Homo sapiens: one gene and its partners. The protein of the gene in region 1 interacts with the protein of each later gene in a pairwise test. Each region holds a gene or a part of one and is shown in the gene's direction. Other genes may lie near its edges.

Region 1 (3,500 bases):
CACATGTCACATCAGTGTCAATGATCAATGGGAAGGAGATGTATATTTCTCCCACAGTGAAGCACTGCAAGCCGTGCAGCAACAGGTAGAGACATCTAATCTTTCAGAGAGGGAAGAGAATAATTGGAGGCAATAATATAATCCACTATGCTAACTATGTGACCTTAATCAACTTTATGCCTTGCTTTCCCTATCATAAAATAATAACAATAAGAGTAATAATAACAACATATACCTCAGAGATGTTATGAGGATTCATGTGATAATGTAAGTAAAGTTCTTAGCACAGGCCAGGAGCGGTGGCTTACACCTATAATCCCAGCACTTTAGGAGGCCGAGTCAGGTGGATCCCTTGAGGCCAGGAGATGACTTGAGACCAGCCTGGCCAAAGTGGCAAAACCCCATCTCTACTAAAAATACAAAAATCAGCCAGGTGTGGAGGCACATGCCTGTAGTCCCAGCTACTCAGGAGGCTGAGGCACAAGAATTGCTTGAACCCAGGAGGCAGATGTTGCAGTGAGCTGAGATCACACCACTGCACTCCAGCCTGGGTGAGAGGGAGACTCTGTCTCCAAAAAAAAAAAAAAAGTTCTTTGTGCAGTGTCCAGCACAAAGTAGGCACTTTAAAAATAGCAGATGTTTTTATTCATTTATTGCAATGTGGCATTAACTTCAGTTCTTGATGAGCCTGTGTATACTGTATTAATTAGAAAGTTCTTGAAACAGAAAATATCTAAATCTCACTAATTTAACAAAATAGAAGATTTCTTTCACATAAATCTAATTGGTTGATGCCGTACAAGGACCCAGGCTGAGGGACACTTTGTCATCTTTAGTACATGGCTTCTAAGATCTGCTGAGTGGTGATATCCAACTAGCAGACAAGGAAAGAGGGAGAGTAGATGATTATGTAGAAGATTTTAATGATCCGGGCCTAGAAGTAATGTATATCACTCCTATTCATATTCTATGGTCATACCTAACTGCAAGAGCAGCTGCAAATTGTAGTTCAGCTCTATATCCAGGAGGAGGGAAACTGGTAGGGTGAACACACTGGAGTCTTTGGTATGCATGCCCGATATAAATGTCTGGCAGCAAAGAAATACAGCTAATGTGAATCAGGATAGAGTAAGGCAGAGGAAATGATTTGTCCCAGTGGTGAAAAGATTCCTGGTAGAGACAATATTTCCTGGTGCCCTTGAATCATTCTTTAGTGGTGTATTTTTTTAAAATAAATTAGTTGGGATATGTTGACTTTTGGAGTAGGTGTAGATGATTCTTAACAAAAGAGATGCAAATACATATTGTTTGATTTCTGTTAGCTGATCTGTTAAAGTAGACACAAAGGAGAAAAGCCAACTTCACAACCCATGCTCAAAAGCAATGTTCTAATCTTGACAATTACACCCACATTGTGTCTAAGAATGCTGAAGAATTAGATGCTGTCTTCTAATATCTGGCACTTGCTGTTGACTAGCAATTTGCATTTTGTTTTAAATCCCCTAAATGTCCATAGGCTAGATACATGCTGTAAGTTTAGGTTGAATTAGTCTACTAATAGTCATTGTTTTCCTGAAAATAGACCATGTAATTTGTAAGCAGTGTTTGAGAACCTCTGCTTCCCTCAAGGAGAAAACTTGGAAACTAAGTTCCATACCTTTTCACTAGAAGCAAAAGAACAGCTTTAATGCCAAACTTACAACCTAGAAAAGAGAAATGTCAGGGAGAAATATCTGAGAAGACTATGAGAGGAAGAACCAGAAGAAACAGAGTGGTGATCCATAATACTTCCGGTTCTCTTACATCGTTTCCATTTCCCTAACTCAGATATCACAGCCACATACATTCATGCAGGGGAAAACATTATCAAAATGAAACAGTAAATACCAGTAATGCATGTTAATCCTTCCATGGGGCAGTAATACTGGATTAGAAAACTCTTGACCTCTTCAAATATCTTGCCATTCCAAAGTAAATAATGTCTCATAGTGGAACTTCTGTTTAATGAAGAGAATGTTTTTGAGGACAGGATTTATTTCACTGCCACATTCAATCATTTCAATTTAAAAGGGATATAATCCAACAATCTATGTGCAGAAGGGAATAGGCAGGACAGTACCTGAGTCCAAACCATGTAATATTAGAGTAGATGAAAGAATTAGGAGTGTTTTCCCTGGAGAATATGTGGGGGAGGAGGCATGATAGTTGTTTTCAGGTATCTTGATATTTGAAGATGAAGGAAGGATTATAATTGTTCTGCTGGGCTCTAAGGGATAAAAGTGGGACCCAGCAGTGGAAGCTACAAAGTGACATATTTTGGTTCAATATAAGAAAGCATTTTCAGTAGTCAGAGCGGGGCAGAGGTAATGTGATCTGTCTTCTCTGCATTTACACAGCTCTGAATTCTTTGTCACTAGAAGCATAAAGAAGCTGAGAGAGCTAGGAACTGGGGTTGGAGTGTATGTATTTCAAAGTCTCTGCAACACAGAGCACTTCTAATGGCTATGAGAGAAGCGATGCCCTTCAGGCTCAGTCAACAAATCAGACTGGACCTCACCACTCTATGGGGCCATTGCTTTATGACTGAGGGAGCCATCATTTCTCTATAAAAAAAATGAATCACATTTAACCAAAAATGATATCTCAGTCCCTACACGAACCTTGTGTCTATGAGAGCAGGTCTGGAATGCAGTAATCATATGACTAAGCAGCATCACATGACTAAGAGGAAGGGTACAGGACTCACTGCTCATGGAAAAGCTTTACCCTTGCTTTTTGTTGTCAACACACTACCTTCAGTCAAAAGACAAGGAATGAAATCTCTCTTCGGAGGTTTTTGCATCACCTTACAACATTTTCAGAGCCAAGACTCCATGACGAGTTAGGCAGAGCACACTTCAGATTTTTAGACATCTCTAACGTGCAAAATATAGTGCTACTAACATATAATTCCTCCTCTCAAGAAATCTAGTTTCAATAATGGCAACGAATGGGGTAGATTCCTTCCTCTTCAGCTGTCTCCCAAGGTCTCACCAGTCAATACCCTAAACATATTCACCCTCTTAAATTTTCATTAGCCCTCCTGGGGTGGCTGGGCCCACAGTAGTAAAGCATATAAAGAGAGGGCAGAAAGAGGACGGCAAATAAAGAACCTATGACATTATGTGTTGTCATTGGAAGAGAGGCCGCATTAGGTGGCCCTCTTTTTTAATCAGCACTCAAGGAGTGTTGGGCCCAAGCCCACACTCCACATGTCTCCTTGACTGGCCACTGTTGGGGGTCTCTGTGGACAAAAGGAGGCATCAGAGCTGATGAAAGTCAGCTGAGGTCAGTGGTTCCCATAGTGTGTCCCTGAACCAGCAGCAGCATCACCAGGGAGCTGGCTACAAATGCAAATTCTCAAGCTCACCCCCCGATCTACTGGATCAGGAACCCTGAGGACAGGGCCAATCATCTGCCCATCCCCTCCAGGGATTCTGATGCACTCTAAAGGGTGGGAG
Region 2 (3,500 bases), on another chromosome or scaffold:
TACAGCCTAGGTATGTAGTAGGCTGTGCCATCTACGTTTGTGTGAGTACATGCTATGATGTCCACACAATGATTAAATTACCTAAGGACACATTTCTCAGAACATATCTCCATTGTTAAGCAACGCAGGACTATATAACTTTATGTACTGATGTTAATTGCAGACTTCTGCTAATAATTTTTCTTTTCTGTTATAAACCTAGGCATTTCGTCCTTTCTCTCTCTTTTTTTTTTTTTTTTTTTTTTTTGAGAAAGAGTCTTTGCTCTGTCACCCAGGCTGGAGTGCAGTGGCACGATCTTGGCTCATTGCAACCTCCGCCTCCCGGGTTCAAGAAATTCTCGTGCCTCAGCCTCCCAAGTAGCTGAGATTACAGGCATGTGCCACCACACCTGGCTGATTTTTGTATTTTTAGTAGAGATGGGGGGCGTTTTGCCATGTTGGCCAGGCTGGTCTCGAACTTCTGACCTCAAGTGATCCACCCATCTCGGCCTCTCAAAGTGCTGGGATTACAGACGTGAGCCACCATGCCCGGCCTCTTTCTCTTAATAGATGTTTTTTTAAACATAAATCTAATATTACTTCAGATATGCTGTTTTCTGATTAGTGCAATAACACATGCTTATTGTGCCATACTATGTGGCCAATTTGTTACTGTACAAATAATTCTTCCAAAACATATAAAATGATATGCAGGAATTCTATTTTATTTTCTATTAGAAAGCTTTAAGGAAAAATTAACTTGAGTTTTAAAAACCATAGTTTGAGGTGCTAGCATATAGCTGGCTTTTCCATTTCTCCATCCTTTATTTGGAAATTAATTCGGAAAAATAATCCTGTTAATCTAGAAGAGAAAACAGCAGCCTGGCATTGTATGGTAATTAGAACTCATTTCCGTGAACAGGGATGTTTATGTTTCTCTATTTCAAGGGGGATTCTCAAACCAGGCTCAACCCATTCCTATGAGTTTGATGCAAAGCTGGATGTTGGAACAATTGAGAAAGTCAAGTTTCTTTGGAATAACAATGTGATAAATCCAACCCTCCCCAAAGTGGGTGCCACCAAGATCACTGTGCAAAAGGGAGAAGAGAAGACAGTGTATGTATCTTTGCTGGCTGGTGCCTAAAAATGTTTGCAGAGATTCATGTTATAATGAAAACCCACCCTAGAAAGTTACGTGTAGTTAAGCAAGAAAAGCCAAGAAAATTTACCCATCTGTGGCCCCTTCTCCCCAAACAAGCAACTGACAAACAGCATAAAATGTTTCTGTTGGGTGCACCTTATTGGGTGTTCTCAGCACTGCCTGTGGGAATACAGAAGATAAGGCTGCACTTTCAAGGTAAAATGAGAAAATACAAGAAAGAGAACAAGAAATCCTTTCTGAAGGGTACAAGTTTATAAGTATGGGCTAGTGAATAGCTATACTTGAAAGAGGAGAAGACCAATTACATTTCAGGATAATAAAACGGAAAATAAATCGGTTTTAGGAAAAGATCGAAAATTTTACATAGGACAAGAATGCACTAGGATTGCAATACTTGTGAGATCCTGACCTGTGGTCTCCCTGGCTTTGGGCCTGAATAAGCACAGGGCCGTGGGTAGGAAAAAGGGACGGCTGGAGGAAAGTTGGAGTGGTGACCTGAGAGGGCAGAGCGACTGTCTCTCAAACCTCAGACCCCAAGTCTGGCTAGTAGAACATGTGGCTTTGTGGGAAGGAGATCCTGGGCTCTCAGCCACCGATGTTCTTGAAGTTTGGGGTTAGGTGGAGTCACCGAGTTCAGGTCCCAGAGATTGTCACTCCCCCAGGTGGGGAGGGTGGGGTGGCAGAGTAGAATGGGGGCTGACTCCACATCTGGGTCTCCTCGAACTGGATGACTTAGTGAGGTTCTCCTTATCCCCACGAGGCAAGGAGAACAAAGAGGTTGGCCCTGCCAGGTGGTGGGTGGAACCAGGAGGCCTCATAAGCTAGAGCATAGTACAGAGGAGGCTGGGCCGGGCTGGTCGGGAGCCCTGTGCAAGCTGGAGGTGCAACCAAATCCTTTCCTCCCTGACCCCATCAGAGGATACTCAGCCTCTAAATTCAGCTCCCCAAGGCCCCATTAGCAAGCATCCCATGGCCTGGATCCTGGGACTGTGTGGTTAAAAACATGTCAGGTGGTGGCATCATTGGAATCTTAAAAATTAGAGGTGTTCCCAGGAGATGACTTGCTCACAGGTAAGGCATACAAGTCCAAATCAGCCAGGGCATTGCATCTTCCAGGTTTTCTGAGGAAAGGCTGAGGCTTTCTGAACTTTCTGCAAATGGAACAGAACATACTTAAGGCTGCACCTGAGGTCCTGTGCCCATCAGCTGTCACCTGCATTCCAGTGGCTGAGTGCAGCTCCCCTCGCTGTCTGCTCCAGAAAGACTCTTTCTTAAGAGCAGCTGGATATAAGACATCAGGTTTTCTAAACAGAGGAAAGTCAAAACAGCTTCAAATCTCTCAAACTAGTTTGGGAAGTAAAAACACTGAATTAGTTGAATTACTCAAACATTTTCCTGTTATGAAAATGGCCAGTAACATTTAATAATAATAATAATAATAATAATAATGAAGAAGCTAAAGAAAATCAAGATTTTGGTCCAAGCTCTTCTCAGAATCCCCTCATATTTTTTAGTAACCTCATTGGGGTTTCAATTCCTACTAAGGAATCTGCCGACTAGGATTCCCTCCAATGACACAGTATCCAAAGAGAAAGGCAGCCCTCCCCCTCTTTATTTCTCCGTCCCCCTCTCTTTATTAAGTACCTTTGGTAAATGTACCCTTGCAAATGACTTTATTCAGTACCTATTGTATGGCCTGGCAAACAGTAAGGGATGCAAACACTGAGCCTACACTCAAGGAGCTTACAGTTCAGCTGTTGAGAAAAATCAGACTTATGGTTCACAGGGAAGGTCAAAAGACCAAATAAAGAACTCCCAGGAGAGGCTCAGAAAGACAGTGGCCAAGGAGGAAAGCAGAGGGCCGCGGGGAGGCTGTGATGGAAGGAAGGGCAGCTCTCAGGATGAGGCAGGGAGTAGGAGGGAGGAAGGGCACAGGGGCAGGGCAACAGGTCCAAGTGCATGAGGGGCGACAGGGCCCAAGTGCAGGGAATATGATCGGAGGCCTCCGATGCCAAGTTAGGGCTTCTTGGCAGAAAAAATGAAACACAGAAGAGAAAGTGGGAAGGGGCCAAGGAACACCAGTGAGGAAATGGGGCAAAGCTTCCGAGCTCACAGGTGGTGAGGCCTGAGAGAAGTCCGTGGTTCTTGAACAACCACAAAAATAACTGCTTACATCTGCATTGTTTTTTGTTAATTGTAAGACTTTTTACATTTACCATCATGGGATGTTACGTTCTTATCATGGAATTCTCAACAGTCGTGGGAGAATGACTGAGATGGAATCTCGCTCTGTTGCCCAGGCTAGAGTACAGTGGCATGATCTCAGCTCCACTGCAACCTCCACCTCCTGGGTTCAAGA
Region 3 (3,500 bases), on another chromosome or scaffold:
AAAGATCTCTGTGAGAATGGGGTATTAAAATGAATGCTCTAAACAGGTAGGAAAATCATACTTCTCTCTCTGATCAAAGTAGACAGCATCTAGCATAAGCCCCTATGGTCCATGGTGGAAAGGACAGGTCATCTGTTTTAAGAATAGTTTAAATACACTGTTTTTCCTTTTCCAGCAGTGTTTGCAAAAAATTTTCATGTCAAAGCAGTAATGAAGACTTCCGTGTTGCTGTCTTGGGAGATTCCAGAGAATTATAACTCCGCCATGCCTTTCAAAGTAAGTTGTTTTCTAATTTGTAAGAAATCACAGATAAAAGTAGAGGGGACAGTTTATCTGGGTAAGTTATTTGCACAGCAAGCAGACCACTTTGTTTTGGCCACGTGTCCTTGCTATTTTCATTTGTGACTTTCACATGGGAGACAGTTTGGTGCTTTGTAAGTGTGTCCTTTACACTCTGAAGAAGGAGCAGGAGCTTAAATCCAGGGCTGGCATCACTTGTAGGTTACCTACTACTTTGAACTTGAACTTTTTACATCTAAGCTAGTGCTTTTGTTTTTCAGCCAGAGAATGAAATTTACATGGTTTCTACCTATTTATATTATAATACCCTGGGAGTTTCTGAATTTGTTTGTTGGCCTGTATTCTTGGCACATTTTAAACTCTGGCTTGCCATTAAGAGATGTTAGCAAGTACATATTTATGAAATAAGAAATAGAGAAACATTTTTGAAAGTAAAAGTATATTTAGAAAGAGGAACCAAAACCTTTAGAAAATAGGCAATATTCATAATACGTTGAAACGTAGAGCTTTTCTGCACATATTCCATTAAGATCACATACAACTGACAGGTCTAATATTGATAAGTTATTTTCTATATATATATATGTATATATCTATCTTTGTGTATTTTTGATAGACTTGGAAACATTTTATCATTACACAGTAGGAAATGACAGGAAAATTGATGTGATCTCCAGAATTATGACTACTCATGGACTTAGAAATCACCTAAAATTAGAATTGACTATATATACATTTTCCAAAAGCTAGTGCACATTGGTTTAGAAAATATATTTTGCCTCTCTGATAACCAGATTTTTTTTTTATTGGTTTTATCTCTTTAGATTCTTTATGATGATGGGAAAATGGTAGAAGAAGTGGATGGCCGAGCCACACAGAAGTTAATTGTCAACCTGAAGCCTGAGAAATCATATTCATTTGTGCTGACAAATCGTGGAAACAGTGCTGGTGGGCTGCAGCACAGGGTCACGGCAAAGACTGCACCAGATGTATTACGTACCAAGCCTGCCTTCATTGGGAAGACCAACTTGGATGGCATGATTACTGTGCAACTGCCTGAAGTACCTGCAAATGAGAATATAAAGTAAGTTGATTGAAGGCTTAGGGCTGAAGGAAAGAATTATAGGTAAATAGGAACATTATATCTCAAAATTATAGAGGTCGTAAAAGAAGATACTGCTTAATGTAGTGAAAGATTCTTCTGCTCAGACTCCCAGTTTTGCTATCCGAGTTCTTTTACAACGTGTCCTAGTATTCATTGTAACACAGATTTTCATTAATTTAACAGTGAGTTTTTAATCTGTATTGCAGGGACAGTGTTATTTAGGAGAAACAGAAAAACATATAGAACATGGTTCTTACTACAAAGCTTTTTGTTTGTTTGTTTGTTTGTTTGTTTTTGTTTTTGTTTTTGTTTTTGTTTTGAGACGGAGTCTCGCCCTGTCACCCAGGCTGGAGTGCAGTGGCGCGATCTCGGCTCACTGCAACCTCCACCTCCCGGGTTCAAGAGATTCCCTTGCCTCAGCGTCACAAGTAGCTGGGATTGCCTCAGCCTCCTGAGTAGCTGGGATTACAGGCACCTGTCGCCATGTCTGGCTAATTTTTTGTATTTTTAGTAGAGACCGGGTTTCACCGTGTTAGCCTGGATGGTCTCAATCTCCTGACCTTGTGATCCACCTACCTCAGCCTCCCAAAGTGCTAGGATTATAGGCATGAGCCACCGCGCCCGGCTACTACAAAGCATTTTATGTCATAGTTTATGGAATAAGGTGAATAGGTGATTAACTCTAATATTTGGCAAAATATTTTTGTAATTATGAAGAAGTCTTACAAAGTACTAAAAGGTTGAAAAAAAGGGGGGGAAATTAGATAATGGTATATGACACTGATGTATTAAAAGTAGGAAAAATTCCAAAAAGTTAAAGTTAAAAATGACATTGGAAAAAATATAAACATTAGAAAATTCAAGTTTTCTGGTTTGAATGTAGCACAGCATAGAGGCCAACAGGCCTGAAGTGGAAAATTAAATCCAGTCAATTAAATAAGTTTGTCCAAGGACATATAGCTAGTTGGTTGAATAACTAATAGAAGAAAAAAGTATTTTCACCAAAATATATGAACTACAAGTACTGTGGTAGACTCCGGGGAATAAAAAAAGATGGATTCCTGACTTCAAAGACCTTACCATAGAGTGAGAGAGATACAGAGAAACAGACAGATGTAGTAAGCGTTAATGATAGAATTATGCTTTATCTTAAGAGCAGCTAATTCAGAATGGGTCAATAAAGTTTCTGAACTTAAATCTTAAGGGATAAATAGGAGGCATACAAATAATAAAAGAGAGACTATATGCAAAGGGAGTGGTAAGTGCATAGGCCCATTACTAAAGGCACCCAGTGGTGCCATACGGCTGGATCCCAGAGCGCCTGGCCACAAGTGGCAAGAGAAGGAAGAAGGAGGCATACAAGAGCCAAGGGTATACCCAGAAGTGAAAACTATATCCTCTAGACAATGGCAACCCATTACAGCTCTTTACACAGGAGAGTGGCATGATAACATTTCAATAATACATAATAAAATTCCATTTTAGGAAATATTTGTTGAGCATCTATTGTGCTACCTGTTTGGAATAAGAATAAATCCTTTCTCATTTCTTCTATCTCACACCCTCAAGTTTAGGTGAAACTTGCTATGCCAGGTTTGAAGGTCAAGCAGAGAGGCATTTATTCATAGTTCATGCATTGTTGGAATTTGGATAGATGGGAGCGCCATAGAGATAGTGGTAGAGAAAATTATTGGGAGGTGGTCACATAGTTGACTCTAGGCAAATAACAAGATTCTAAAGGAAGATGATGATGATGGAAGTAGGATGCAGAGGTAGACATGAGTTACACTAGAGTAGTAGTACAGCATACATTATTGGTAGCTGCTTTAATGATGAGATCAAGAGAGTAAAATATGGCTCTGAGTTCTGAGCTTGGATGACAATGAATGATGGTGTCATCCTAAAGGATAAAAAAATTCAGAAGTAAATGAGTTTAACGTTGTGTGTATTAATATGAAATATCAGTGAAATACCTAGTTAGAAGTGTGGGCTTAGAGAAGTTATTAAGATTAAAGATGGCCAGGCATGGTGGCTCATGCCTGTAATCCCAGCACTTTGGGAGGCCGAGGCGGGCAGATCACAAGGTCAGGAGTTC
Region 4 (3,500 bases), on another chromosome or scaffold:
TTATGAATCTCACCTCTCTCACCTTCTTCAGGTTTAAATACTCCAATTTTCCCTTTCTCTAAACTTAGAAATTTCCATGCATCACCCTCTTCTAGAATTCATCCCTCACCATTCCTTATATAATTGATTTATTGTAAAGACTCAGAAATAAATCAAACATTCTACTAAGAAAAATTGAGAAGGGGAGCTCTGGGGGTGGAAACATATTAGGGTAAAAGACTTAAAATTGGAGGCAGCATTATCAGAAGATGAAGAACAACTCAGGGATGGGGTGGGAAGAAGACAGGTCCTTTTCTGTACTTCCTAGACAACCTCCATTATTCCCTAAGGGAATCAGTGTTGTGTCTGTCTACTTTTTTTTTTTTTTTTTTGCCACGTAATTTTACAAACTCTCCCTTTTCTAGGCACCCGAACTCTCTGCCATCTTCTCTCCTGGGATGCAGTCATCCCATTTGTATGCCTCATACTTCCTCTACCCTGGTAGATTCTTTCAAGATCCTTGGGCTTTACTTTCCTCACATAACTCAGTTATTCTGCTTCTAGTTTACCATTTTATTCTGGAAATTGAGAGTCCCATCCAGGGGTGGACTTATGACACTACTGAAACTTAGACTTCAAGGTTCCTCACCTACAGGGCCCTCTTCCTGTGCTCTAATAATATAGAGGGCTCGATGGATATGTGTTCATATGGTAACAGGCTTTTGTAAAAATTGCAGAAATAAGATTTTAACAGCAATTGCTTAAAGCCAATTGTATGTGTAATTTTTTTTCTTAAAGACTCCCAATTTTGTAATATTCAGGCACCACAGAACCAAGATCTGCCCCAAACTTAGCTATTGGCATTCCCGTCTCAAATTCTGTTGTCCTATGAAAAATCGAAGAAGAAAATAAGTCCTGACCCCCTTACCCCCAGACCCACCTTGTTCTTATCCCCAGGCACCCTCCCCTCAGAAACGCAGGCTTCTGCTCTCCCCGGTCTTCAGCATGGACAGGTGTGGGAGGGGGCTGGGGATCAGGCCAGGGAAGCTGGGCGCCAGTGGTAACTCTTCTCTGATCCCCGTCTTTCCTGCTGCCAGTGAATCGAACGCCACACTCAGGTGAGATGAGAAACCCTTACCGCGCGCACTGCAATGCCCTCCCCTTCACTCTGCACCCTCCACCCCCCTGAAATTCTGCCCTTAGGCTACGGGGCGTCGTCCTTTCGCACCTTCCCCAACCCACCCCAGTTTGCGGCCACCCCCTTCCCTCCCTACCTGTTTCCTGCCTCCAGTCCCGGTTTTCCACGAGGCTGCGGTCTCTCCTTGTCCCTGCTTGGCTACACTTCCCTGGGCTCCACCTCCTCCCAGACTGAGCCTCGCCGGTGTCAGGCAGAGCCCAGCAGAGGGCGGCAGGGTGCTGGGAGACCCTGAGCTCCCACCACGTTTTCCCCTGTGGGGTTCCTTGCGACCTTCGCTGGAACCTTTTCCAGCCTGCTGCCTCCTAGGATTTCACCTAATGGACTTTCTCAGCCTGTCCCACCCATCCCAACCCTGGCCAGGCCTCTCGCGCTCTTCCCCACATCTTTTCCTTCCGTGTACCCCTTCCCTCGTCTTTTCTCAATTCCATGTCCTGTCTCCCTTTCTTAGGCTTCTGTCTACCCAGCCCCAGGCTCCCTTCCACGACCCCACCACTCCCTCAAACCAGCCTCCCTTCCGTACCCAACTCGTTCCCTCCAAAACCGTTTCCTCTCCCCCACATCCTCAGTGCTTCACTGTATCGACTCATACTCCCACTTCAGACCTCAGGCGCCAGCCCCGTTTCTCTCCCGTCCCACTCGCATCCTTCCCTTCCTACCCTGGTTCCTCCGTGCTTCAGCCTCCCGCGGCTCCCTCCGCCCACCCCGCCCTCCTGGCACGCCCCGTCCCCATTTCTCCTCCCCTCGGGTCCCCTTAAGTGAGATCCCTCCCTTCCTCTTTCGTTCCTTTCCTCCTCGAGGTTGCATCCCCCCTCCCCTCCCCGCCCCTCCGACTGTCGCTCCCACCTCGGCGCTCGCTTCCCTCCCCGCCCCCTTCCTGCCTCCCCAGCTCCCGCCCGCCCCCCCACCCCCCGCTGCCGCGCGCCGCCCGTGACGTCAGAGCCCCCTCCCAGCCCCACATCTCCCTCCTGCTCCTCCTCCTCCCCTCCGTCGGTCAGTCAGTCCGCGAGGAGAGTCCGCGGTGGCGGCGACGGTGGCGAGAGCCGCGGGGGCCGTAGGAAGCCAACCTTCCCTGCTTCTCCGGGGCCCTCGCCCCCTCCTCCCCACAAAATCAGGGATGGAGGCGCCTCCCCGGCACCCTCTTAGCAGCCCTCCCCAGGAAAAGTGTCCCCCCTGAGCTCCTAACGCTCCCCAACAGCTACCCCTGCCCCCCACGCCATGGGGCCCGGGGCCCCTTTTGCCCGGGTGGGGTGGCCACTGCCGCTTCTGGTTGTGATGGCGGCAGGGGTGGCTCCGGTGTGGGCCTCCCACTCCCCCCATCTCCCGCGGCCTCACTCGCGGGTCCCCCCGCACCCCTCCTCAGAACGGCGCGCAGTGTACATCGGGGCACTGTTTCCCATGAGCGGGGGCTGGCCAGGGGGCCAGGCCTGCCAGCCCGCGGTGGAGATGGCGCTGGAGGACGTGAATAGCCGCAGGGACATCCTGCCGGACTATGAGCTCAAGCTCATCCACCACGACAGCAAGGTAGCCCTGGACATGGGGGTGGGTGGGAGGTGGGGGCTTGCGGGGCAGGGGGCCAGCCAGCTGCACGCGCCCCCATCTGTCTGAGTCGTCTCTGGGATTGCGAGGCAGACCCCTCCCTTGTGTGACTGGCAGGAGATGGGCTGGGGGTGCAGGAGCTTGGGGAGAGTCGCAGGGGCTGGAGGTCCAAGATGAGGGTCTAGGGGCTCAAGATGGTTAAGCATGCTGCAAGGCAGACCCTTCTGCCCCGCTGCGGGAGTCTCGCAGAAGTGTCGGGGTTTGGAGAAACTGGTGGTGGATTTAAGGTATTAGGAGACACTGATCCTCTGAGGGAGTAAACTAACCCTGGAATGGGTTGGGGGTGGAGGGAATGTCAGAGGTGGGGAGCTGGATTGGGGGTTTACATTTACCATGGTAACAAGGTAAAATCTTGGCGTAGGTTGGAGCTGGAAGGAATAGGGACAGAATGAGGAAAATTTTGAGAGACTTGAGAGCTCTAGTTTATTTATCTTAACAAAACAGCAAGGTAGTGGTGAGCCCTACCTGACTCCTTCTCATCCTTCTATTCCCAACCCTGTTGAGCATTCCCAGACTGTGGGATAGATGGCATATGGTGATTGGGGAAGGCTAATGATCAAGAGGTGGGCAGAGGCACTGGGAAAATGAATTGGATTGGGGATCCACATGGGAACCCCCACAATAGCATGGGGATGAAGAAGAGTCAACATACAAGGAGAAGAGAACAGAAAAGAATGGCAGTGGGGGAGAGGGGCAAGGAGGTAGCGTGGGGATAATGAGAGATCTT
Region 5 (3,500 bases), on another chromosome or scaffold:
GGGGACTGACCCAGGTGGTGAAGCTAGTAATGGGGCCAGGCTGGGGTAGCGTGGGAGGGCTGGGGGGTGACCTGCTGGCTCAGCTGAGCTGTGAGGCCCAGCCGTCCCTCCCCACAGGTCTCTGTGGAAAGTGGTGGCTTGGCTGATTTTTCCTGGGAAGGAGAAGCTGGATGTCTCCCGCTCCTTCCCCAGGAGGTGCCGTGGCAGCGGCTGTGTTGACAGGCCTCCTGGCTTTCTTGATAGGGTGGCTGGCAGCTCTGGAAGGCCGGCTGTACCCAGATCAGCCCTAGGGAAGAGGGAACTGCAGAGGTCTCCCTGCCATCACTAATCCCCGAGGCCCATCCCACCCTCAGCCTGTCCCTCCATCGCAGGAGGAGAGCTGGGGAGACTGGCTGTGATGGAGGTGGTGGAGAGACAGGCCAGAGGTGGGGCAGCCCTCCGCCTCAGGGTTCCCCATTGCTCCCTGGCTAGTCTCCTGCTTCCTATGACCTTTGTCACTCACTGGCCTAGCTCTTCAATATTTCATGGCCCTTCAAGCCGGCCCCCTACCCCAGCCCACACAGCCCCCTTTGTCTCTGCCTGCCACCCCCCGCCGCCCCCCTGGGCATCCCTGCCGCTGAATTACTGACCCAGAGGCTGCCTCTGCCTTCTCCTAACTGTCCCCCACTGTGCCTGCCCCTGACACTTTCCCTATCCCTCCTGACCTACCTCCCCACACCTCTCCTTGTGACACCCTTCATCTCTTCGGGATTCTCTCCCCTTCGCTGACATCTCTGACCATCTCCCTGCCCTTTTCCTCCATTTCCCTCTTTTGTTGGCCTCCTCCTTCCCAGTGGAACAGAAACCGCGGCAACTGGTCCGCCTGCCTGTCCACCCCCCAACCACTGTCCACCCCTTCCTGCCCCCTCCCCCACCAGCTGTGCCGGCCGGCCGTGAGAGCTGGTTTTATTTATTTTTCTGTTTGTTTGGGAAGAGGGCAGTGGCGGCTCTGGGCCCTGGCTGCTGCGCTCTGCTTAGAGCAGCGGGCAGGCGGGCCTCACTGGCCTCCCAGGAATGTGGCTGGGACGCCCCAGCTATATTTACTCCCCTCCAGCTGCCGGCCCCAGCAGGGCAGAGCCAGGCCTGCCTGGTGGCCCCCGGGGAGCCCTGTACCCGCCCTCCTCTGTCTGGCAGACCCTACATCGCCCTTGGGCCCAGCACTCCCTCCCTTGCCTGTGACCTTTTCTGACCTCCTCAGACGTGCCCAGCCTGCCAGCAGGAACACTTGTGTGCCATGCCAGTACGGGCGTAATGTTCGGGCACTGGGGGCCTGGGTTCCTGTGGGGCAACCCCTAGCGGCCCCTACACACCCAAGTAGGGGCCTAGGCTGGGCCTGTAATCCGATGGCCAGAACTATGCAAAGCATCTTTCCAGGCCTTTCTCTGTGGGCCTGGCCCCTGCTCTTGCCACAGTCCCCTTGGCTCTGCTGTGATCACTGGCAGGGGTGGTGTCAGGTGGGGGCCTCAGTGGGCTTGAGTGGCTGTGCTCCTGGCATCACTGGATCCCCAGGTCTCTCACACAGGCACACATATGTACGTGTAACACACCTAAGTGCTTACATACACACACATGTGTGCAGAAAGACACCCTCACCCATGAAAACATGCTGGCTTATACCTTCCTTGCAGGCAGGGCCGTGCCTCCTGTCATTGATCCCCTCATTCATCAGATGCTTATTGGGGCTGCTTATTGGGCCTGCTCCTTGCCAGCCTTGCAATGGGATATGGCAGTGATTACTTCTTGTACCCCCAGTGCCTGGCACCAAATAAGTGTTTGAAGAACTTTAGCTGCTGCTGTAATCAGTTGCGGCCCCCGTTAACTGCTATTTTGTTTTTGTTTTTGTTTTTGTTTTTTTGAGATGGAGTCTCACTCTGTCACCCAGGCTGGAGTGCAATGGCGCCATCTTGACTCACTGCAACCCCCACCTCCTGGGTTCAAGCAGTTCTCCTGCCTCAGCCTCCCGAGTAGCTGGGATTACAGGTGTGCGCCACCATGCCTGGCTAATTTTTGTATTTTTAGTAGACATGGGGTTTCTCCATGTTGGCCAGGCTGGTCTCGAACTCCTGACCTCAAGTGATTCACCTGCCTCGGCCTCCCGAAGTGCTGGGATTACAGGCGTGAGCCACCACCCCCGGCCAACTGCTATTGTTGTAATAGATTGTAACAAAGCCAGTGGTAATGGGTAGCCCAACGAAAGTCCTCTCTGTGGCAGGCACCATGTTAACAGCTTTCTGACTTTCACTTTTTTTCATCCCCACAGTAGCCTCAGGTGACATGGGCCCATACCTGGGACAGATGCATGTTGTTAGCATCCCCATATACAGATAAGGAAACTGAGGCCTTGGGAGTTTGTGGCTTGCCACTGCCTAGTGGGATGGAGTCCTGGCAGAGCCCTTGACAGGCTGTTGGCCTCTGTGTGCTGTTTCCTGCACCTTCCACACTATCTGGCACACAGAAGGGACTCCTTAAATGCTTGCTGGGCACAGGCCTTGCTCTTTCCTCTTTGAGGCCCCCATAACCCTTGGCAATGGGCTGGATGTGTTGGGAGATGGGCTGATAGGCTAGTTGGGCAGACAAAAGTGAATGAATGAATGACTGGATGACTGGTGGTGAGGATAAGTACTGTCAGGGGACACTGGGGTAGGGGGTTGCTGGTGAACAGGCTGGCAGGTGGAGACCTACTGGCCCTGTGGAGGATTCTGGGAAGCAAGGTAGGGGCAAGGCGGAGAGATGTGGCCAGAGAGCAATAGGCTGCTAAGCCAAGCCAGTGGGGCGGGTCCTATCTTCTTTGAGGACCACAATTTTTCCATCTGTCAGATGGGCTTGGGAGCCTTTGTCCTGGCTGGCTGCCGGCTGGCCTGGGCTGGGACTGGCCTGGGAGGTGAGGGGACTGTGGCGGGAAGGAGGAAGCAGTGGGTGGTGAAGACAGGAAGATAAAGCGTGGAGCTTGGCTTGGAACCTGAGAAGCAGAGACCAGCCCTGACCTGACGCCCGCCCTCCCTCCCTCCTAGCCGCAGGATGGGGTGCAGGCATGCAAACCCCCCACCACCCACTCTCACTCTGGTGCGGGCTGACTTCCTGACATCTGTGGCATTAGTGGCTGTGTGTGCCAGGAGGAGGTGGCCTGTCCCCTAGGACTAGACCAGCTTCTCTCCAGGCCAGGGGCTCCCGACAGCTTCATGCCAGTTCCTGTTGACTCTGATGGGAGAGACCCAGCCCCTCTCCTGCCTGACCCACCTCCCCCAGAACTAGATGGGAAATTAGTTAACTGGGCTCATAGCAGTAGGCAGAAGTGGACCTGGCCCCCTTTCTTCCTGGGGCGGTCAGATCTTGGTGGCCTAGAATTTCTTAGTCATGGGAGTCTAGAATCATAGATAGAATGCTTGGAATGGAGGCATTTTTCAAGTCAGGATTCTCGTTGGGATTCTGGAATCACAGAACCATGGATTTTGCTGCTAGAA
Region 6 (3,500 bases), on another chromosome or scaffold:
TCTCAGAACTGTCATTTATTACTTGTAAAACCTTAAACAAATCACTGAATCTCTCTGTGTCTCAGTTTCCTCATCTTTAAAATGGTCATATAGAACTACTGGGCTGGGCACAGTGGCCACATCTGTAATCACAGCACTTTGGGAGGCCAAGGTGGGAAGATTGCTTGAGGCCAGGAGTTCGAGCCAGCCTGGGCAACATAGCAAGACCTCATCTCTACAGAAAAATTTAAAAGTTAGCCAGGTGTGATAGCACATACCTGTAGTTCCAGCTTCTTGGGAGGCTGAGGTAAGAGGATTGCTTGAGCCCAAGAGTTCGAGGGTGCAGTGAGCTGTGATTATGCCACTGCACTCCAGCCTGAGTAACAGAGATTCCATCTCTTTAAAAAAATACAATACTTAACCTTGTAGAGTTGTAGAACATAAATTAAGTAATACATGTAAAGTGCCTGGCACTTGCAATTGCATGGACAATTGCATGGCAAATATGAAGGGTTAACTCTTTGGGGACAGCAGAGGGAGGATGTACTGTGACCCCATCCTGACCCCTACCTCTGTCCTCGTTCTCTCCAGACATCTCCGTGAGCCTGCTGTCGGTCATCGTGACATTCTGTGGCATTGTCCTTCTGGGTGTCTCTCTCTTCGTGTCCTGGAAGTTGTGCTGGGTGCCCTGGCGGGACAAGGGAGGCTCGGCAGTGGGCGGTGGCCCCCTGCGCAAAGACCTAGGCCCTGGTGTCGGGCTGGCAGGCCTGGTAGGCGGAGGCGGGCACCACCTGGCGGCTGGCCTGGGTGGCCATCCTCTGCTGGGCGGCCCACACCACCATGCCCATGCCGCCCACCATCCACCCTTTGCTGAGCTGCTGGAGCCAGGCAGCCTGGGGGGTTCTGACACCCCTGAGCCCTCCTACTTGGACATGGACTCGTATCCAGAGGCTGCAGCAGCAGCAGTGGCCGCTGGGGTCAAACCGAGCCAAACATCCCCTGAGCTGCCCTCTGAGGGGGGAGCAGGCTCTGGGTTGCTCCTGCTGCCCCCCAGTGGTGGGGGCTTGCCCAGTGCCCAGTCACATCAGCAGGTCACAAGCCTGGCACCCACTACCAGGTGAGAGAGGATACTGGGTTGGGGGTCCACTCTGAACTTCTGCTCCTCCTCTGTGTCTCTTTCCTATCTATAGCTCTTATGAGTTCGGGATTTGGAGGGGAATCGGGGTATTGACTCCTGGATCTTAGGGAAAGAGGAGGCTGGGGCCCTAGACTCCTGGATCTGAGGGAGGTTGGGGCTGTGGGGTCTAGACCCCTTGGACCAGAAGAAGTAGGGGACTGGGGGCCTGAATTCCTGGGTCCAGAGGGAGGAGACTGGGGGCAGGACTTAGGACAGGAAAGTAGAGGAGAATAAGGTTGGATCCCCAAGTCCCCTGTGGCACAAGGCAGTTCACCCCCTTTCACCCTAAGCCAGGATTGGTAGTGGGACCTGGAGTTCCTTCATTCATTATTTCTCAATATACATGTAAATGTATATTGAGCACTGATATAAACTAGGCCTGAGAGGGGTGTTAGGAAAACACCAGACTCTGCCCTCCTGTCACTCACAGCGCAGGGGAGGCGACCCCCAGACTGGCTGTCCTGGTGTAGCCAGGTTGGTGAGACAGGAAAGCGACTCAGGGAACCGCAACTGGGAGAAGGCTGGGAGCTTCCTGGAGGTGGAGATGTCTCAGCTGAGACCTGCAGGCTGAGGGAGAGTTGGGAAGGCAAAGAGGCAGGGCTGTGACCTGGGCATTCCAGGTGAAAGGAGAGGCCCAGGCAAAGACAAGAGGAGAACGAGATCCTAGTGCATTGTGAGGACAGCCCACACCAAGGGGACAGCCAGGGCACCAAGCCTTAGTCACCAAGGCATGAGAATAAGTTTGAAAAACGGAAAACTTCAGGCTGGGCGCAGTGGCTCATGCCTGTAATCCCAGCACTTTGGGAGGCCGAAGTGGGCAGATCACTTGAGGTCAGGAGTTCGAGACCAGCCTGGCCAATATGGTGAAACCCCATCTCTACTAAAAATACAAAAACAAACAAACAAAAATAGCCGGGCATGGTTGTGTGTGTCTGTAATCCCAGCTACTCGGGAGGCTGAGACGGGAGAATCTCTTGAACCTGGGAGCCAAGATTGCACCACTGTACTCCAGCCTGGGCAGCAGAGTGAGACTCCATCTCAAAAAAAAAAAAAAAAAAGAAAGAAAGAAAAAAGAAAAAGAAAACTTCAGAGATGTGACTACAGACACCAGACCACATGGGGCTTTGAGTGCCCGCCTGAGGGTCTGGGACTTTGTCCTGAGGGCACTGAGGAGCCATGGGAGGGCTGTGAGCAGGGGAGGGGCAGGCTCAGCTCTGGGTGTAGAAGGAACCCTCTGGGGCCATATGGGAGTGGGCTGGAGGGAGACACTGGAGGCTGAGAGTCCAGGAGAGGACAAGGCCTGAGCTGTGACCAGGACAGTGGGGATAGAGAGGAGAGACAGCCGGGGAGATTAAGAGAAGGGCAGAAGAGCGTTCAAAGAAGGTCTGCCAGGGGTCCATGGAGAAGCATCCTGGGTCACCAGCTTGAGGTCCAAAAGAGGTTACTGGAAGCTGGTTTATGCACAGGTCTGGGCTGGAGCTAGCTTTGAAATGGGGAGAATGAGGCTGGGTGTGGTGGCTCACACCTGTAATCCCAGCACTTTGGGAGGCCGAGGCGGGCAGATCATCTGAGGTCAGGAGTTTAAGACCAGCCTGACCAACATGGTGAAACCCCATCTCTGCTAAAAATATAAAAATTAGCCGGATATGGTGGTGCATGCCTGTAATCCCAGTTACTCGGGAGGCTGAGGCAGGATAATCACTTGAACCTGGGAGGCAGAGTTTGCAGTGGGCCGAGATCGCGCCTTTGCACTCCAGCCTGGGTGACAAGAGCAAAACTTCGTCTCAAAAGAAAAGGAAAGAAGGAAGGAAGGAAAGAAGGGAGGGAGGGAGGGAGGGAGGGAGAGAAGGAATGCCCCCCAGATACCAATGGGGAATCTGAGGCTCAGAGAGCACAGTGGCTTCCTCAAGCTCACACAGTGAGCAAAGGAGGGGACTTGTGGCCACCTGGCTGGGGGATGGGGGGAAAGGCAGGGAGGAGTCTCCCAGGTCTCTGCATGCAGTCGAAGATCAGAGCCACTGACCTCACCTTGGTCTCCCCCCAACCCCCTACAGGTACCCAGCCCTGCCCCGACCCCTCACCCAGCAGACTCTGACCTCCCAGCCGGACCCCAGCAGTGAGGAGCGGCCACCTGCCCTGCCCTTACCCCTGCCTGGAGGCGAGGAAAAAGCCAAACTCATTGGGCAGATTAAGCCAGAGCTGTACCAGGGGACTGGCCCTGGTGGCCGGCGGAGCGGTGGGGGCCCAGGCTCTGGAGAGGCAGGCACAGGGGCACCCTGTGGCCGTATCAGCTTCGCCCTGCGGTACCTCTATGGCTCGGACCAGCTGGTGGTGAGGATCCTGC
Region 7 (2,951 bases), on another chromosome or scaffold:
CAGTATTTACAAGGGTAATATGAGCCTCAAAATAAGAAGCACAGGAAAAACTTTGGGAGCATGTGATCTAGAGACTTCAGGAATAACCCTTAAACCACACATGAAGATTTAATGGACATAAATGCTGCAGAATGTTTGTTAAAGACAGATCCAATTTTTATTAGAAGAAAATTTTAGTGGAATGTATAACAAATTCCAACTATACTTATTATCTTTCTTTGGGATGTTAAGCAAGCTTCTGTATACCTTAGTTTTCTACTTAGAATATAAACACAAACCAAATTTTATAAAGCCATTAGAAAGAAAAACAAAGATAATATAAAATGCTTAACATAGTGCCTACAGATAGTAATAAGTGTATCATTTATATAGGTAAAACTCTAGAATTATATGTGTCAAAATGTAGTGATTATCTACAAATAGTGATAATTAGGATGATTGTGACTTTTTTGCTTCTATTTTTTAAAAAAATATTTCTACCACGAATACGTATTACTTATATGACATTAAAAAAAAAACACACACACACACACTTTAAAAGGAGAGGTAAGAAAATGGAGAAGAGCATTTACATTTTTATTTAAAACTCACAGCAGGCCAGGCATGATGGCTCATGCCTACAATCCCACCACTTTGGGAAGCGGAGGCAGGCAGATCCCTGGAGCTCAGGAGTTTTAGACCAGCCTGTGAAACATAGTGAGGCCCCATGTCTACAAAAAAAAAAAATAATAACTCACTCACCAATGTTTTATATGGGTGACATAAGTGTATAAAAATATATTTCTTAAAAAAATCAATACTTTTATAAGTAAAATTTAGTAAATAGAGCTTAAAGGCTGGATTATGCAAATACTAACTTTTTTTATTTTAGTGAAAACGATTCAAATTTCAACACATTTAATAATAAATGAGAAAATTTCAGTAGATAAGCATAGAACAAATGTAAAAGAAACTCTCTTCAACCAAGATTGTACTATTGTATGTGGTCTAAAGTATAGTAATAGTTTTACTCAGAATGGTGAATTAAAGATACTGGGAGCTTCTGAAATGCATCCTATTCCAAAAAAGGGGTTAACAGAGAGGGAGGAAAAGGATATCGTTATGTCAGTATGATTTAGTATCTATTTTTATTCTTTAAAAATGGTAATTTTTCAGCAACTATTAATAAATGGCATACCAATCAGAACCATTACAGATTAAAAGAGATTTAAGAGATTATATATATATAAACAAAAGACCATATGTTAACCTTATTTCATTCCTGATTCAAATAAGTCAGCTATAAAAGGACAATTTTGAGACAGCTGGGGGTATCTCAACATATACTAGGTTATTAGAGGATATTAAGGAACTATTACTGATTTTGTGGGTTTAATGATATTCTGTCAGATAAAAAATTATATTTATCAGAGATAAATATTGAAGAGTTTTTGGATAAAATATTATGTCTGGGAATTCCTTCTTCTCCCTTTCCCCAAATAAACTAGGGGGCAGTGCATAGAAAACAATATTACTAAGTGATTTTAAATTCTGATAATTTTTCAATATAAAATTGGGGTTCTCGCATATGTTTGAAATTTTGCTTAATGAAAAATTTAAATAACTTACTTAGAATTCATATATAAAATTTCTAACATTTGTAATATGCATGGCAGGTAGCAATTATGCTCCATTCTTCTTCTCTAGCTCATAAGAGTTTATTTTTGATTGCTTAGGGAAAACCCTGGACCTCAATTATACTGTAAAATATTTTTGTTCCATCTAATCTTTAGTATTCTTATATGCAGTGCCCCTAGGTCTTACTGAAGTTGCCAGAGTTACCTGTTGGTTGCTGTCTGCATTATTTAGCTAGAATATTCTTTGTCTCTTTAAATGTTTGCTCAGTATTTATTTTACTTGATAGGAAATGAAGTGTCTGATGAAGAGTGCTTGAAGAGAGTGGGCCTAAGTGGCGCTCCTGCTGATGCCTGTTCTACTGCCCAGAAGGCTGTTGGATACATTTGCAAATGTAATGGTGGCCGTGGTGCCATCCGAGAATTTGCAGAGCACATTTGCCTACTAATGGAAAAGGTTAATAATTCATGCCAAAAATAGAAATTAGCGTAATATTGAGAAAAAAATGATACAGCCTTCTTCAGCCAGTTTGCTTTTATTTTTGATTAAGTAAATTCCATGTTGTAATGTTACAGAGAGTGTGATTTGGTTTGTGATATATATATATTGTGCTCTACTTTTCTCTTTACGCAAGATAATTATTTAGAGACTGATTACAGTCTTTCTCAGATTTTTAGTAAATGCAAGTAAGAACATCATCAAAGTTCACTTTGTATTGTACCCTGTAAAACTGTGTGTTTGTGTGCTTTCAAAGATGTTGGGATTTTATTTATCTGGGGACAGTGTGTATGGTAAGACATGCCCTTCTATTAATAAAACTACATTTCTCAAACTTGATGAAAACTGCCTTGTTGCTCTAGAAGAAATTTACCATGCATTTTCTTTCTTTCCTTTAAACATTAACCAATCTTAGTGAGAAACAAGCCACTCGATGCCGGGGTAGAGCATCTGATTGTACTTCACATATGTATACGTAACAGCATATGGTCTATGTGGGGGTTGGTTCCAGGACCACCCACATATACCAAAATCTGTGCATACTCAAGTACCACAGTCAACACTGTTGAACCCACATATACAAAAAGTGGGCCCTCCATATACTGCATGATTCACATGTATTTTTGATCTGCACATGGTTAAAAAAATTCACATAAAAGTGGACCACACAATTCAAACCCATGTTGTTCAAGGATCAGCAGTATACACAAATACAAATATCCAAATAAATTTATATATTATGAAGATTATGTATTTATTTGGAGGAAGCAAATTATTTGCAGTTACCCCTGAGAGATAATGGTAATTTTGCATACAGGAATATCTTAGAGATATTACGG

The links.
Region 2: the proteins of KCNJ6 (region 1) and PNLIPRP1 interact in binary tests that used the Homo sapiens proteins (3 or more experiments, as listed by UniProt).
Region 3: the proteins of KCNJ6 (region 1) and PTPRD interact in a two-hybrid assay, tested with the Homo sapiens proteins (one large-scale study listed by BioGRID and IntAct).
Region 4: the proteins of KCNJ6 (region 1) and GABBR1 come close enough for resonance energy transfer, tested with the Homo sapiens proteins (one study listed by BioGRID).
Region 5: the proteins of KCNJ6 (region 1) and CXXC5 interact in a two-hybrid assay, tested with the Homo sapiens proteins (one large-scale study listed by BioGRID and IntAct).
Region 6: the proteins of KCNJ6 (region 1) and SYT3 interact in binary tests that used the Homo sapiens proteins (3 or more experiments, as listed by UniProt).
Region 7: the proteins of KCNJ6 (region 1) and CMAS interact in a two-hybrid assay, tested with the Homo sapiens proteins (one large-scale study listed by BioGRID and IntAct).

The regions. Positions count from the first base shown.
Region 1 is NC_000021.9:37,906,458-37,909,957, reverse strand, and holds part of KCNJ6 (G protein-activated inward rectifier potassium channel 2), read left to right. Parts: intron 1-3,500. UniProt on the Homo sapiens protein: Inward rectifier potassium channels are characterized by a greater tendency to allow potassium to flow into the cell rather than out of it.
Region 2 is NC_000010.11:116,604,459-116,607,958, forward strand, and holds part of PNLIPRP1 (inactive pancreatic lipase-related protein 1 precursor), read left to right. Parts: intron 1-683; exon of another isoform or gene 684-927; coding exon 928-1,095; exon of another isoform or gene 1,096-2,445; intron 2,446-3,500. UniProt on the Homo sapiens protein: May function as inhibitor of dietary triglyceride digestion. Lacks detectable lipase activity towards triglycerides, diglycerides, phosphatidylcholine, galactolipids or cholesterol esters (in vitro).
Region 3 is NC_000009.12:8,482,003-8,485,502, reverse strand, and holds part of PTPRD (receptor-type tyrosine-protein phosphatase delta isoform 1 precursor), read left to right. Parts: intron 1-175; coding exon of another isoform or gene 176-178; coding exon 179-276; intron 277-1,124; coding exon 1,125-1,384; intron 1,385-3,500.
Region 4 is NC_000006.12:29,626,684-29,630,183, reverse strand, and holds part of GABBR1 (gamma-aminobutyric acid type B receptor subunit 1 isoform a precursor), read left to right. Parts: intron 1-1,076; coding exon 1,077-1,097; intron 1,098-2,170; exon of another isoform or gene 2,171-2,392; coding exon of another isoform or gene 2,393-2,537; coding exon 2,538-2,698; intron 2,699-3,500.
Region 5 is NC_000005.10:139,654,849-139,658,348, forward strand, and holds part of CXXC5 (CXXC-type zinc finger protein 5), read left to right. Parts: intron 1-3,500. UniProt on the Homo sapiens protein: May indirectly participate in activation of the NF-kappa-B and MAPK pathways. Acts as a mediator of BMP4-mediated modulation of canonical Wnt signaling activity in neural stem cells.
Region 6 is NC_000019.10:50,629,882-50,633,381, reverse strand, and holds part of SYT3 (synaptotagmin-3), read left to right. Parts: intron 1-570; coding exon 571-1,096; intron 1,097-3,210; coding exon 3,211-3,500. UniProt on the Homo sapiens protein: Ca(2+) sensor involved in Ca(2+)-dependent exocytosis of secretory vesicles through Ca(2+) and phospholipid binding to the C2 domain.
Region 7 is NC_000012.12:22,063,218-22,066,168, forward strand, and holds the end of CMAS (N-acylneuraminate cytidylyltransferase), read left to right. Parts: intron 1-555; exon of another isoform or gene 556-710; intron 711-1,903; coding exon 1,904-2,094; 3' UTR 2,095-2,451; downstream 2,452-2,951. UniProt on the Homo sapiens protein: Catalyzes the activation of N-acetylneuraminic acid (NeuNAc) to cytidine 5'-monophosphate N-acetylneuraminic acid (CMP-NeuNAc), a substrate required for the addition of sialic acid.